Linked DNA regions of Homo sapiens: region 2 is linked to region 1. Evidence: fine-mapped expression QTL. Tissue or cell type: nucleus accumbens. Region 1 holds a variant in brackets; the other region holds the start of a gene. All regions are shown on one strand. Distances are from middle to middle.

Evidence for each region. PIP is the estimated chance that this variant, and not a neighbour inherited with it, causes the effect.
Region 2: it holds the start of CAPG, and the variant in region 1 is fine-mapped to the expression of CAPG in nucleus accumbens (GTEx, PIP 0.97).

The regions. Positions count from the first base shown.
Region 1 is chr2:85,058,810-85,066,986 of GRCh38, forward strand. KCMF1 (potassium channel modulatory factor 1) reads left to right here. Exons shown (of 7, transcript NM_020122.5): 7 at 1-663. LINC01964 (long intergenic non-protein coding RNA 1964) reads right to left here. Exons shown (of 2, transcript NR_146453.1): 1 at 5,974-8,177; 2 at 5,301-5,870. Among named protein-coding and RNA genes, the nearest start is that of LINC01964, 4.4 kb to the right of the region's middle. The variant T/C (reference allele first, on the strand shown) is at 4,285.
Region 2 is chr2:85,406,654-85,414,830 of GRCh38, forward strand. It overlaps CAPG (capping actin protein, gelsolin like), which reads right to left and starts at 3,713. Exons shown (of 10, transcript NM_001747.4): 1 at 3,664-3,713. It overlaps LOC105374841 (a long non-coding RNA gene), which reads left to right and starts at 7,058. Exons shown (of 3, transcript XR_940316.3): 1 at 7,058-7,414; 2 at 8,146-8,177. RefSeq lists silencers at 3,731-3,780, 3,891-3,940, 7,394-7,473 and enhancers at 6,817-7,318, 7,214-7,263.

The sequences.
Region 1 (8,177 bases):
CAAATTAGACTGACAGCATTTGGAATCTGCCTCACACATAAGAGATCCATATTCATTTAATAGTGAAGCCAGCCCAGAAGCATCCTCTTCTGTAAGCTGGATGGAGTCCCAGCTCTCTCTCCTTGTATATAAGGAGACCACACCCTGTATATAAGGTTTTCTTGAGGTAGATGCAGCAATATTCCTGGGGTAAGATTCTATAATACTCCTGTATTGGCAAGTGGACTGGACCAACAGACACAGGCCTCAGCCACTGTCGCTAGGGACTGAAGGAGAGTTCATGGATTCTTACCCCCTAGTCATGAAAGCTATTCTGGCCAGCCTTGAATCCATTTAATTTTGCCCACGAGAACCTTTCATGACAATTAACAAGACACTAGTTTCCCCATAAAAGTCCATTTTTAAATATATAGTATGCTAATTAGCAGTGTCTGTTGAATTGCCCTATCGGATAGCAGCCACCATGTGTGCTGACCACTCACGATTCAGACTTACCTTGGAAAATATCACACTGACGATACAGTACTTTAGAATAAATTGCATATTGTATCAGGCTCCGAGACTAATTTGTACTGAACCCTTGATATAGATTACCTTTTATAACATCACCACCTGTCATGAAGCTTATCTGTTTTCTGATTTGAATAAACTTTGTGTTGTGCACCTCAGTTTCCATTGCATTCACTGAGATAGCTGAGTGTGACTTCAGTGTTGTGTCATCTTAAGATGTCAGTAATGTTCAACACAGACTTGGTCATCTGTGGCACTGGTGTTTCGGCATTTCTATAGTTTTTGTTTTGTTTTGTTTTTTGAGATGGAGTTTTGCTCTTGTTGCCCAGGCTGGAGTGCAGTGGCACTATCTCGGCTCACTGCAATCTCCGCCTTCTGGGTTCAAATGATTCTCCTGCCTCAGCCTCCCAAGTAGCTGGGATTACAGATGTGTGCCACCACGCCCAGCTACTTTTTTGTATTTTTAGTATTTTGTATTTTGTATTTGTATTTTTAGTAGAGACGGGGTTTCACCATGTTGGTCAGGCTGGTCTCAAACTCCTAACCTCAGGTGATCCACCTGCCTCGGCCTCCCAAAATGCTGGGATTACAAGCGTGAGCCACCACACCTGGCCTCATTTCTATAGTTTTAAATCCCCTGTGAAATACCATTACTCCTATTGTCCCTGTCTGCGTCCTCTCCTGTTTCTGTGTGTGTGTGTGTGTGTGTGTGTGTGTGTGTGTGTGTGTGTGTTTTATTAATGCTTCCAGTGACATCTGCAGTTTCAGTTCCATTTGCCTACGGAATTTTCAGGACCACCCTGGTTACCACTGTTGCTGGTGTCTGAGCCTGAGGGGTGAACATGTGGCCTCTCTCCTCAGTCCAGAAAAGGACTTTGGAATACTGATTCTACTTACAGCTTCACAGGGCAAGACTAGAAAGAAGGACTTGAGAAGGAGCCCCCTGAACTTCAGCATGAACATAAGCCCCACCCACTCAGGACCGGAAGGGACAAGACTTGTTCCTTATCCATTTTTTTTTTCCCTCTTCAGAGTTCCTGTTGGCTTTTGGTGGTTGTTTTTCCCCATTTTGAACACTCAACTGCCTCTAGCCAATGGCAGGGTTTTTTTTGTTTTGTGTGTTTGTTTGGTGTTTGTTTGTTTTGTTTTTGAGACGGAGTCTCACTCTGTCGCCCATGCTGGAGTGCAGTGGCGCAATCTCGGCTCACTGCAACCTCCACCTCCCGGATTCAAGCGATTCTTCTGCCTCAGCTTCCTGAGTAGCTGGGACTACAGGCCCGCGCCACCACATCCAGCAAATTTTTTGTTTTTTAGGAGAGACGGGGTTTCACTATGTTGGCCAGGCTGGTCTCATACTCCTCACCTCAGGTGATCCGCCCACCTCAGCCTCCCTAAGTGCTGGGATTACAGGAATGAACGACCGTGCCCGGCCAAGCCAATGGCAGGTTTAAAAGCAAGTAGTGAAAATTACCTTTTAGTATCTACCTGAACAAATGCCTTTCACTCCAGCCTAGGGCTCTAGGGTTGTCCCCCAAGTCACTGTGTTCTGAGGAGGATGGTGGATTGTATTTTTTTTTTTTTTTTAAGACAGGGTCTCACTCTGTCTCCCAGGCTGGAGTGCAGTGGTGCAATCTCGGCTCACTGCAGCCTAGATCTCCTGAACTCAAGCTATCCTCCCACCTCTGCCTCCCGAGTAGCTGGGAGCTACAGGCACATGCCACCATACCCAGCTAATTTTTGTGTTTTTTGTAGAGATGGGGTTTCACCATGTTGCCCAGCCTGGTCTCAAATTCCTGGGCTCAAGCGATTTGCCCACCTTGGCCTCCCAAAGTGCTGGGATTACAGGCATGAGCCACCATGCCTGGCCGGATCTTTTTAAGAACACTTTTGGCATATTTCGATAAAACTTTTAATCCTTTCATAGTATTTTCCAAGTGTTCACCATTCTATGGTTATAAAGCCCCGAACAAGTCCACCTAAGAAAACCAAAACCCACCATGTCCACTCGCAGGCGCTTGTCCAGTGGTCCTGGGCAACACATTCTTTTCACACAGCTGTCTTTCAAACTGCCTTCAGCTCTGGTAGAGTCTGGCCACCAAGGATTGGGGTGGGTTGGTTGATTACTCCACGAATCCTAAAATGTAAAGGTTGCAACAAATAGCACTTTTCACATCTTATACTGTTGTAAGGCACACATTTTAGACATTGTTACATTTCAAGTAGACAGCATTTGATGAAGTGTTTGTAAGATAGCTTTTAGATGCTTATAAATTCTGTAGCCAGCCATAACAGATGTTGGCTGGGAGAAAGAATGGAATTAAGTTTGTAAAAAGAAGTGGTTGGAAAAATTACAATGAATCATGAGAATGGATGTGAATCTTCTGTATTAGAAATTAGGGTTCTCTCTCTTGGGATTCTCTCTCTTACCTCAAAAGTACCCAGATCATGCTTGGACTAGGAGGCAAGTCATGGGTAATAATTGGTAGGTCAATTCTGGGGAGGTAAAATTTGCGGAATTTCCTGGATTACTGACATTGCCTGCGCTGTGAAAGAAAAAGGGAAAATGGTGGTCTTGCTTGATCAGATGTTAGAACTTGGAATTCACGGTGGGGATAAGGAGATGCACATTTTTGTGTCAAGGGCAGTGGATGGGACTCAAAATCAAGCTGGGTTGGAGGTGAAGTTAGGGAAAACCTGGAGAATGGAACTCTGGAATTAAAGCTTAGAATTGGAAAGGTCTAATTGCTCTCTGGGTGCAGGAGTTCCCATGGAAACCTTCCTGACAAGTAAATATCCACCCAGAACAGGGAGAAGATAAAGTGCTGTGGTTACAAGCACAGATGTGAGTTTCAATCTTAGCCCTACCGCTTACTAGCTGTGTGATCTTGGCCAAGTTAATTAACTTTAATTAAACAGTATGCCTATTGTCTCATTCTTAAATGTAGCTAATCATAGTATTAAATAATGTGCTAATACAGTGCCTGGTGTGAAGTAACCATAAAAAAATGGCAGGTGCCTCAGAAGGCAACCAACATAACAGGGACCCAAAGGTGACCAATAGTGGAATTTGGGCCAGGAGCAGTGGCTCATAGCTGTAATCCCAGCACTTTGGGAGGCCAAGGCGGGCAGATCACTTGAAGACAGGAGTTCAAGACCAACCTGGCCAACATGGTGAAACCCTATCTCTACTAAAAGTACAAAAAATTAGCCAGGGGCATTGGTGGGTGACTGTAACCCCCACTACTCAGGAGGCTGAGGCATGAGAATCACTTGAGGAAGGCAGAGGTTGCAGTGAGCCAAGATCGCGCCACTGCACTCCGGCCTGGGCAACACAGTGAGACTCTGTCAAAAAATAAATAAATAAATAAGGAAAGAAAGAGTGGGATTTGCTTGGGAGCAAAGACAGAGCCAGATAACTTCTACGCAAACACAGCACATTGATTTAATTAGCCCCATCCTGCTTCAAATACTTCTAAGTCATTCTGGCAAAACTCCATGAGGGTCAGTGACCTGGTAAAAATCGTGGAAGCTCAAGTTTCTTTATCTGAGGAGTTCAAGAGCTGGGGAAGGACGGGAATCACCCTAGGTCAGGAGACCATAGGTATCAAAGAATAAACATCAACTGAGGCTTTACTATGGATCCCACCACCTCTTCATTTACTCAGTCAGTTTCTTGGGCATCTACTAAGTGCCTGGCACTGTTCTAGGCACTTGGGGTTCTCCAGTGAATAAAGCAAAGAGGTCCCCAGCTCACTAAATAGCACAGCTTCCCAG[T/C]TGCTCAGTCCAAAACCTGTTGGAATCATTTTCTACTCTTTTTCTTGAACCTCACATCCATTTCGTCAGCAGATCCCGCTGTCTCTATTTCCACACTTTTCCAGAAACTGCCCCCTTCCCACCATCTTCACTGCTGCCGCTGGCCCAGGCCTCCATCATATCCCCACAGGGTCATCGCTATAGCTTCCAAGTGGCATGCCTGCCCCCGCACTTCCATGTCCCAGCACAGCACCTGGGTAATCTTGTCAGAACCTACACCTCCAATCCCTCTGCCGCTCCTCCCTCTCAGAGGAAAGGCGGAGTCCTCACCACAGCCCCTGGCTCCCACAGGCTGTGGCTCTTATTCCTTTTTGGGGTTCATCCCCTGCTACTCTATTCCCTCCCCCAAGCCTCACTGACCACCTTGCTGTCCCTCGGGCATGCCACAGCTCTGGGACTTTTGCCTTTGCAGTCCCCTTTTCTTGGAAGATCCATATTTCCTTGCCTCCTTCTCTTTGTCGGTGAGGCCTTCTCTGACTACCCAAATGAAAACAGGGATCCCAGGCCCACCCGGTACACCCCAGCCCCACCTCCAGGGTTCCAGCTATTCTCCTGCCTCAGCCTCCCAAGTAGCTGGAATTACAGGCACCCACCACCACACCCAACTAATTTTTGTATTTTTAGTAGAGACAGGGTTTCACCATGTTGGCCAGGCTGGTCTCGAACTCCTGACCTCAGGTGATCCACCCACCTCAGCTTCTCAAAGTGCTGGGATTACAGGCGTAAGACACTGCACCTGGACTGTTTCTCCATAACTCTTATCACCATCTGACATCCTCCCTACCCCATATACACATTATGTGCACACACACACACACACACACACCCCTACATACACACACACATAGATGCCAGCTTCCTGAGGGCAGGGCTGTCCATTAGTCACCCTTGTATCTCCATGTCTATAAGGCATGGCACACGGTAAGTGCTCCATAAATATTTATGGGATAAAAGAATGAATGGTGTGGGCCAGACTCTGTTAAGAGTGTTTTTTATTATTTCAAAAGTGCATACCAATATAAAATACTCAGTCCCTGTGGAAAACAATTTGGCAGTTCCTCAAAACATTAAACATAGAATTACCATGTGACCCAGCAATTCCACTCCCAGGTATATCCAAGAGAATTGAAAACATATGTTCACACAAAACCTCCTACATTCATGCTCAGAACAGCATCATTCATAATAACTGAAAAGAGGAAACAACCCAAATGTCCATTCACTGATGAAAGGTTAAACAAACATGATCTACACAATGGACTATTATGCGGCCATAAAAAAGAATGATGTACTGACGCATGCTGCAACTTGGATGAACTTTGCAAACATGGTAAGTGAAAAAAGTCAGTCGCAAAACGCCACAGAGTATATGATTCCATTTAAATGAAATTCCCAGAACAGGCAAATCCATGGACACAGAAAGTGGATTAGTGGTTGCCAGGGGTTGGGCAAGGAGAGAGTGGGGAGTGGCAGCTCGTGTGCACTGGGTTTCTTTCTGGAGTGTTGAAGAGGTTCTCGAATTAGATAATGGCGACGGTTGCATAACTCTGTGAAGATATGAAAAGCCACTAATTTGTACACTTCGAAATGGTTAAAATGGTGAATTTTATGTAAAGTTTATCTCAAAAAAAAAAAAAAAGTCAAACATACCTGCGGTAGGTATTCTTAACATCCCCATTTTACTGATGATAAAAGTGCGTGTCAGGGACCAGCTCTGCCAGGTGCCCAGCAACCCTGCACATCTCCACCGGGCTCGACGGCAACCTGACCTGCGTCTTGGTGGAACACCCTGCAACTCCTCATGGAGCAAGGGGCGTTAAGTGGCCCTGTGCATCGCTGCCGTGAGTGGTCTCACCTGCCTCCCCACCCTTTTGGAACTGCTGCAAGGCCATTTCTCATCGATCTTCCTAGTTTCTGTTGAGCGCAGCGCTTTCCTCCTCTCTCCCCACTCCCACAAGTTACGTCTGCAGGTGCCTGCTAAGTCTGTAGAGTGCTCGGTTGCAGTTGAGAGCTGGCTGCTGCACAGCAGGGCAACCCACTGTCCATGCCATCTGGTGTCCCAACCTTCCAGCCTTGTGTCCTCCTGTGGGACGAGGGACACAAGGAGCGACATGTCATGCTGATTTAGCTTTTGCTGTCTGCGTATGTAACAACCTGTCCAAATCCATGTGGCTCAATGTCTCCCTACAGACAAATCTATGGAAGTGTGGCTGGCCAGCCCCACAGCTGCAGGGGTAATCTCTACGGCCCCGTTAGCCCCTGCTGCTTTGGGAATGCTTGATGCTGAGATGAAATAAATGTTCCTGGGGCCCACCACTGCTGGAGGCAGGATCCCATCCCAGCTGGTCTGACTCAATTCAGACACAGTAAAAGCCATCTGGCAGGTTATCTGATATGACAGTAAATTAAAATGAAGACAGTTCTAGAAAAGACGAGATTTGTTCTAAAGTTTTTCTTTCTGATCTCTTCAAAATTTCTGCCTTATCTTTACTACAACAATTCAGAGAAGTCAAGGAACTCCAAAGCCTCTCTTAGGGGCATTTAGACAGTCATCTTTGGGGAAATATGGGGCTAGGACACGTAAAGTCACTCGATGACTTTTAGAAATATTAGCCTGTGACCACATATACATTTCTTCAGGATTAGAAATTAAACTGGCAGTCTTTACACTATAGTTAAACATTGTCTCCAAAATTGCCCCTGCAGTTTCCAAAAGTTGAAAGCCCTCACCCATTAGGGACATTTGAGTCATGGCACCTTACCTAGGCCTTCTTCAACCACAACCCTGATCTTCCAGCTGCCTCTTCTGTCCTCAAGACAGAAGCTCGCCTAATCCTTGGAACAAGAGGCAGCAGATCCTGAGAAGTTTCTGCTTGTGTTTGTCGGCAAGGAGATGGCTTCAGCAGTGGTAGGGGCGTAGGCAGGGGCAGGGCTGCCCCCTTAGTCTGTGAGGCTGGTGATCGGCCACAGTGAATTGGCTCCATATCCACGAAGAGGCAAGGAGGCTCTGCTCTAGTGACCCAGGTCCAAACCTGGGAAGCTCCAGATCTGGGACAAGCTCCAGATCAGGCCCAGGCTAGCCGTGTGACGTTGGAGCAGCTGCTTAACTCTGAGCCTGCCCCTCCTGCTGCACAAGTCCCTGCTGGCTGTGTGGATGAGCAGAAATAATGTCCATGAAGGCATCACAAGGTCTCAAATGGAAGGCTCCAACAACTGGTTCAGTGAAAAAAAGGTTTGGAGAAAATACACATTTCCATGACCCCAACTGTGGAGAAATCTTTCTGTCCTTCTAGCTTTAAGAGTAGCAGAGCACTGTCTGGTGAGGAACTTTTCCTCCCGAACAGTCTCAAAATCGAAGCTCTGAGCACACTGAGCCAGGCCTTCCCTCATCTCTTCCTCTTCTGCACATTTGCTCAACTGTGATCTGAGTCAAGCCAGCAAGATCCAAGCTAGTCTAGCAAAGCATTTTCCAAGCAGCCTTGGAAAGGGGTTGGCCTCGTGAGGACACTGATTCCTAATATTTGCAGTTGGCTTTGCAGAGCTCTCATTACAGCGAAGGTGTGAGGGTGTCTGTTGCCACCCGCTTTTGAGAGAGAGGCACTGAGCACTACAACAGCACAGCTAATGTTTATTGGACCCTTCGTTCGATCCAGGAATTTAGATGGACTATTTTATTTAATTATTTCCATTAACCTGCTACCATTATCCCATTTTGGAAAGAACACAACGGAGGCCCAGGAGGGGTAAGGATTCTGTCCTGCAGTCCGAGGCCAGCAGGGCTGTGTTTCCCAGCACCGTGAGGGTCTTTACAGTTTGGGACCAAACAAGGGTGAAGTTCAGGACGGGGCCACGTG
Region 2 (8,177 bases), 350 kb after region 1:
TTCGAGACCAGCCTGACCAACATGGAGAAACCCCATCTCTACTAAAAATACAAAATTAGCTGGGCTTCGTGGCTCATGCCTGTAATCCCAGCTATTCGGGAGGCTGAGGCAGGAGAATCACTTGAACCCGGAAGGCAGAGGTTGCAGTGAGCTGAGATCATGCCATTGCACTCCAACCTGGGCAACAAGAGCGAAACTCCGTCTCAAAAAAAAAAAGGAATCCTGTTAGCTCAGTCTAGCCAGAATCTCTTTACCCTTGATGTTTCCTCTTAGTAATTTTCTTTTTTTTTTTTTTGAGACAGAGTTTCACTCTGCTGCCCAGGCTGGAGCGCAGTGGCACAGTCTCAGCTCATTGCAACCTCTGCCTCCTGAGTTGAAGCAATTCTCCTGCCTCAGCCTCCTGTGTAGTGGGATTAGAGGCGTGCACCACCACATCTGGCTAATTTTTTGTACTTTTAGTAGAGGTGAGGTTTCACCATGTCAGTCAGGCTGGTCTTGAACTCCTGACCTCCAGTGATTGCCCACCTTGGCTTCCCAAAGTGCTAGGATTACAGGCGTGAGGCACTGCGCCTGGGCCATATTTTTTTTCTTTAACAGTGCCCAAGCCCCTGGTCTGGGGATTCTGATTCCACAGGTCTGGAATGGGGCTTGATCACCCATATTTTGAACATATGTTCAAAGTGATGGTAGTAGTGCCAGTGAATTCTGTCCAGAACAGTGTCAAATGCTCACCTGCACATTAGAATCATTTGGGGGCTTTTGAAAAACCCCAGTGCCAGCCAGGCATGGTGGCTCATGCCTGTAATCCCAGCACACTGGGAGACTGAGGTAGGTGGAATGCTTGAGCTTAGGAGTTCAAGACCAGCCTGGGCAACATGGTGAAATCCTGTCTCTACAAAATATACAAAAATTAGCTGGGCGTGGTGGCGCACACCTGTCATCCTAGCTACTTGGGAGGCTGCAGCACAAGAATTGCTTGAACCTGGGAGGTGGAGGTTGCAGTAAGCCGAGATCACACCACTGCACTCCAGCCTGGGTGACAGAGTGAGACTCTGTCTCAAAAAAAAAAAAAAAAAAAAGTAATTTACAGAAAAATAAGAAAGAAAAACCCCAGTGACTAGCTTCCATATTGGACTCATTAAAACCAGACTCTCTAGGTGGAGCCTGGATGTCAGTGTTTGAGAAGCTCCAGATGACTCTAATGCTTGGTCAGGGTTGAAACTCCTGCTGCCTCATTAGATCTCTGTCCCGAGACCTTTTGTTCCAGTCTCTCCTGGGGAAGGGTCCACCCTGACCTCTGGCCTTTCATTCTTTCCCCTATCCCAGCCCTCTGTCCAAGCCCACAGCTCCTTGAGCTTCCTCAGTGTCCATGTTCACCCTTACATCCATTAAAGCCCCCTCATCCTAGGCTGGGCACAGTGGCTCATGCCTGTAATCCCAGAACTTTGGAAGGCTGAGGCGGGTGGATCACTTGAGATTAGGAGTTCAAGACCAGCCTGGCCAACATGGTGAAACTCCATCTCTGCTAAAAATACAAAATTAGCCAGGCATGGTGGTGCGTGCCTGTAGTCCCAGCTACTTAGGAGGCTGAGGCAGGAGAATTGCTGGAACCCGGGAGGCAGAGGTTGCAGTGAGCCGAGATGGCACTACTGCACTCTAGCCTGGGCAACAGAGGAAGAATCTGTCACACACACACACACACACACACACACACACACACACACACAAGCCCCCTTATCCTTCCAGGCCCGTATCAAGCCCCAGCTGTCCAAGGAAACTTCCAGGACATTAAGTGGCCTCCGCCTTCTCTGGGAGTTCTCCCAGCCCTCTCCCCTGGGAGCACATACTTTAGCCTGTTTTATAGCATAAACTGGCTGCTTCACATCTCAACTGGAGCAAGGACACACCTGATGCCTCTGTTCCTCAAGCAGCCCAGCAAAGAGTCTATTCCATTCCACTCAACGTCTGTGCTGGGGGCTTGGCACTGGGGGTGACATGCACAGAGACAAAGAATAGCCCATGTTTTATGGTTTAGCTGCAGGGTGCAGTGAACAAGGGAGCCACCATACCCAGTGAAACCGCAGACGAACTTCCTCTAAGTGGGGAATGTCACAGAATCACAGATGTCAGCATTAGAAAGTGCTAAAGTTGAAGAGGGGAGCTGGGGCCGGGGGGGAGGAATAAAACAAAAAAAAGAAAGCGCTAAAGTTCTTATCTAGTCCTGCTCTGCCTGCACCGCCCTACACATACCCATACACGCATAGTGCAGAAATCTCTTCTATAGCATCCCTTACCATCCTCTTCTTGAAGGCTTCCAGTGATGGGAAACTCACCACCTTACCAAACAGCCTCTTCTACACCTCTTAAAGCCTTTACTTTTCCCCACTCTGCCATAGTGTGGTGAGTTATGGACCCGCCTACCTCCACTACTACACTGTAGGGTCCTTTAGGGCAGGAAGTGTATTTTGCCTCTGGATCTAGCTGGAACCTCATGCAGGTGCTCAAAGAATGCATTTGATTAACTGGACCTGCTGGGCTCTGATTATTAGACTGGGGTGGCACCTAAGGGATAGCCCAGGATTTCAAAAGGCTGGGACAGGCTGGAGCAGCCCCAGGAGGCAGAGAGCAGGGGCTAGGGGTCCCAGACTGCCATGGGGCTGGGGGAGGGGAGGACGCAAGTCCTGCTGGCTGTCCCATGGTCCTGACTTAGGCTGTCTTTGAGGACACACTGGGGGACCTCGGAGAGGAGGTCACCGTTACACACACCTTTAAGGAAAGACTTGACAGCCATCAGAGGGACAAAAATCCTGCCGGGGTCCAGTGGTACCTTTGCCTTCCTCAGACCCTGATTCCACTGACCCCCAATAGGTCTCTTCCCTTCACAGTCCCTGCTTGCCCCTAGGTGTGAAATGAAACAGCACCTCCACTTCTCCTGGTGGAGGTAGGTGCCCACCCTCGAAACCAAACTGAATCTCCCAGCCTGGGACATGGCATTCTCAGAATCTAGGTCCAGAGGCCTCATTTGGGGATTCCAAATGGTTTTTCCCCTGATACCAAATAGGTCTCCTACCCTTCCCCAGGGTCAACCACTTCCTCCCTCCCCACCTCCTACCTCAGACAGTCCACCTAGACCCTCAGCCAAGGTCTTCCAGAGTTTGCAAAATAATCAAATGTGCCACTTGCATTTGAATTCAAATGGCTAGGACTGCCCTGCCCCCTCCCCAAGCCACTCCCACCCAAATAGCATCACACCACAGTCCTGTCTTGGGGACAGGCAGCTTCTAATCTGATTTCACCTCCAGTCTGGCTGAGGGCCTTCAGGAGCAGTGTGGTGGCCTCCGTCAGGAGGTCTGGCACAGCTGGGACAAGCCCTGACCCAAGAGTTCCTCCATGTGCAGCATGGGCACAGCCCACCCATCCTCCCGGGCAGCTTCACAGCTGCCATCAGATCAGGTGCCTGGAGCCTGGCATAAGGCTGGCAGGACAGCAGGCTGGGGGAACTCCACCCTGGCACAATGTGGTATCCAGAAATGTGGGTCTCTGTTCCCAGGCCACCACAGCCAGCCCTCGCCTGCCCACCCAGGAGGGTACCAGCCAGCCGCGCTGGCAGCCACCCTGCCACCTTCACCTTTCAACACTCCTACTTTCCTTTCTTCCTCCTACCTCTGCTTCGTAGGTTCGTCTTCCTTCCAGCCTGCCCCACCCGGCTTCTCACTTCCCTCTTACTTCTCTGGCTGCCCCAACCACCAGCCCCACCCACCAGCCCCACCCCTGGGCTCCTTCCCCAGCCGGTGTGGAGGCGATGTCCCCCGACAGGGAGGGGCAGGCAGTGCTGGGAGGCCAGCAGGCCTGAAGCAGAAGAGCAGTCACTGGGGTGGGCAGTGGGTATGCCAGGCCGTCTCCTCAGAGGGGCACACAGGGAGGCTGGAGGTCCACACAGCCCCACCACAGTGGCCTCAGCCCGCTGCAGGTCACAGCCAAGGCAAATCAGGGAGGGCATCTCTGAGTCTGAGACCAGCAAGGAAAGCCATGTTCTCCATTCAGGGCCTGGGGCAGGCGCGGCACAGCCCCCACCGCTGCTGGGTTAGTCACATTTTCTGGGCAGGGTCACTGGCTTCACATTACTTTTTCCTCCTCCCTCAGTTTGTCTTTCTCCTTGCCCTGAATGCAAGTATTTGATTTTTTTTAAGATCAGTTTTTTGGTTTTTTTTGTTTTTTTTTTTTTCCTGAGACAGGGTTCACTGTCACGCAAGCTGGAGTGCCGTGGCATTATCACCGCTAACCGCAGCCTTGAACTCCTGGGCTCAAGCGATCCTCCTGCCTCAGCCTCCTGAGCAGCTGACACCACAGGCCTGCACCAACATGCCCGACTAATTTTTTTATTTTTTCTGGAGACAGAGTCTTGCTACTCAGGCTGGTCTAGAACTCCTGAACTGAAGCAATCCTCCCACTTTGGCCTCCCAAAGTGCTGGGATTACAGGCGTGGGCTACTGCACCTGGCTAAGCTCAGTTCTCAGGGAATGGCTGAGGCCATAAAACATTCTTCACCATCTTCCGCATGCCATGCTGATGCCTCTCAGGTCTCTACCCTTTGGTCTGCTTCTCATTCACCAGATGTTTATCATCATGACTTCTGGGCCCTGGGCCCTCTGAGAGACAGCCCATCCTGGGTTGACCCAGGGCAACTATCCTGCCTACATCACAGTCACTAGACCCTAGAGCTTGTCTCCTCCAACTCGCTGGCTTTCTGGAGGACACCGAGGTCCTGAGAGCACAAGAGACTGCCCACAAACACACAGGGAGTGGAAGCCCCTGCAAGGGAGGCTCCCATTCCCTTCTGAATCCCTGGGGGAAGGATGAGCGGACTCAGTATGAGGCTCCAGGAGAAAGTGAGCACCCAGTTATGCAGCCACACAAGCGTAGTTCCTCTGCCCAGAACCTAGCCGGCCTGTCCTGGAAAGGTATTGGTCAGCAGGCTGGCTTGAGACAAGGCTCCAGGTTCAGGGTCAAGGCCTGGGGACCCTGGAGCAAAATCTGGAACAAATCTTCCTAATTAGCAGACCTTCAAACAAAACCTCATTATTTGACTGCGTGGGAAAAGTCTGGAGAAAATACAGTACTGGATAGGCTGGGCATGGTGGCTGTCTCCGGTAATCCCAGCACTTTGGGAGACTGAGGCAGGCAGATTACCTGAGGTCAGGAGTTCAAGACCAGCCTGGCCAACATGGTGAAACCCTGTCTCTACTAAAAATACAAAAATTAGCCGGGCATGGTCATGGGTGCCTGTAATCCTAGCTACTGGAGCGACTGAGGCAGAAGAATCACTTGAACCCAGGAGGCGGAGGCTGCAGAGAGCCGAGATGGCGCCACTGCACTCCAGCCTGGGAGACAAAGCAAGACTCCATCTCAAAAAAAAAAAAAGCAATACTGGATGAATGTTTCTCATTGAAACGAAATTGATAAAATTTCACTAGAGCAAGACGGGAAGTTAAATCTTCTCCCCAAAGAACATGGCCTGTAGCTAGCATCCAAGTGTCTCCATGGCCAAACTGCCAGGCTTAAAAATAGGGTAATATGGGCCGGGCGCGGTGGCTCACGCCTGTAATCCCAGCACTTTGGGAGGCCAAGGCGGGTGGATCATGAGGTCAGGAGTTCGAGACCAGCCTGGCCAGCATGGTTAAACCGCCATCTCTACTAAAGACACAAAAAATTAGCCGGGGGTGGTGGCGCATGCCTGTAATCTCAGCTATTCAGGAGGCTGAGGCAGGAGAATCGCTTGAACCCGGGAGGCAGAGGTTGCAGTGAGCCGAGATTGCGCCATTGCACTCCAGCCTGGGTGACTGGGCAAGACTCAGTCTCAAAAAATAATAATAATAACAATAATAATAGGGTAGTTTGGTGGAGGGTGGGAGGAGGGAGAGATTCAGGAAAATAACTAATGGGTACTAGGCTTAATACCGGGGAGACAAAATAATCTGTACAACAAAGCCCCATGACACGAGTTTACCTATATAACAAACATGCACATGTACCCCTGAACTTAAAAGTTTAAAAAAGAAAAAAAAGGATAGTCTGGGTGAGAATCCCAGTAGGGCCTAGTCCCCACAAAACCACAGGCTGGGCGGTTAACCTGGTAGAGTGATAAGAGCTAGACAATTTGGCTCCTTACTAGCTGTGCAAGTGACTTAACCTCCTGGAGCCTCCCTGTGCCCCAATCTGTAACACGTGCATACAGTTAAATGTGAAGATGAAATGAGATCCTATGATTAATGAGCAAATAATACATGCTCGATAAACCCAGACTTCTTTCTCTTCCCTTTAGTTTGCAATGTGCCATCAGCACCTGAGGTAGAAATGTGCCTGGCCACTCCCCTAGCTCCCGGTTTCTCCACAGGAGGAAAGAAAGTTAAACCACAGAGCACTCTCCTATTTCCATCCCCAGCCCCAGCGCTGGAAAGCTTCATAGATTTTGGTCACAACAGCGCATACCTTGGGTGGCTCTTAAGTTCTGGACTCTGTGACCCACGGAGGGAACAAGGATCAATGGGAATCACTGTTCCTCACACTCAGCTGTCTAGGCTAAAGCCTCTCCTATCACCACAGGAAAAAAGGGGAGAGGTTTACACATTAACAGCGAAACAACTGGCTGGGCGCAGTGGCTCACGCCTGTAATCCCAACACTCTGGGAGGCCGTGGCGGGCGGATCACCTGAGGTCAGAAGTTCGAGACCAGCCTGACCAACGTGGCGAAACCCCATCTCTACTAATAATACAAAAATTAGCTGGGCGTGGTGGCGGGCGCCTATAATCTCAGCTACTCGGGAGGCTAAGGCAGGAGAATCGCTTGAACCCGGGAGGCGGAGGTTGCGGTGAGCCGAGATCTCGCCACTGCACTCCAGCCTGGGCAATAAAAACAAAACTCCGTCTCAAAAAACAAACAACAACAACAGCGAAACAAAAGGGCCGGTCGCTCAGCCTAGGACTCTCGGGAGCGGCTAGGAACTCAATGCACATGCTAATGAGTTATCTGGTAACGACGCTCTAGAACTAGTTTTTTTACCAGACGCACAGTGTTCCTACCCTTGTGGTCTCCCCTGAGCACTACTGCTTAGTTTGTCCCAAATGAAGTAAAATAAAGTATTTCTTTAGCACGGACCCACCCTCTCCCGCCTTTTCTTACAGGAAGCCAGGAGACGGCGCGCCCCTAAGAGAGGACCCCGGCTGTGGGAGAAGAGGAGGGAGCGGGGCGCCCCCGAACCGGCTAAGCCCGTTCGACCCCTACATGGGGAGCCCAGGTCCCCGGCGACCGGACCCCGAAGCGCACTACTTGCCTGCCAACGCCTTGCTCCGAGGCCCTGGGCGCTGTCTCAGCCGCCCCCCGCCCCCTGGAGGTGCGCGGCCAGGAGCCGCCCCCGGTGAGTCAGAGGGAGGGGCCCGGCCGGTCTGAGCTGGCGGGGAGCCCCTATGGGAGGCTGGGGCGCCCGAAAGGGTCCTAGAATTGGGCGTGGGAAGGAGGGTATAGGGGAAGCTAAGGACAAGCTTACTGTGCTGTAAACTTTGCGAGAGAATTGCAGTGTTCACTTCCATTCAATCGTTAGGCCCCCGGCCTCAATCACCCTGTGAACAGCTACTGTTCTGTGAGAGCCTACTATGTGCTTGGTGCGTCCTCACATCTACTATCATTATTCCTGCTGGAAACATGAAGTCTTTGGGAGGCTCAGAGAGGGTAACTAACTTGTCCAGAGTGTCACATTGCTAGTTCAGTAGCAGAACTAAGATTTTTTTTTTTTTTTTTGAGACAGGGTCTCACTCTGTCGCGGCACCTGGAGTGCGGTGCTGTGATCACAGCTCACTACAGCCTCAACCTCCCAGGCTCAAGCAATCCTCCAGCCTCAGCCTCCTGAGTAGCTGGGACTGCAGGCATATGCCACCACGCCCAGCTAAACTTTTTTTTTTTTTTGGAGAGACTGTGTCTCACTCTATTGCCCAGGTTGGTCTCAAACTCCTGGGCTCAAGTGATCCTCCTGCTTTGGCCTCCCAAAGTGCTGGCATTATAGGCATGAGCCACCGCACCCAACTGCTGAACCAGGATTCTAACCCAGGCTGATCTGACCTGCAACACCTGACCCTTCTCTTCTTTATTCAGAGGAAAACAGGCCAGCAAGCATCTGCACCAGG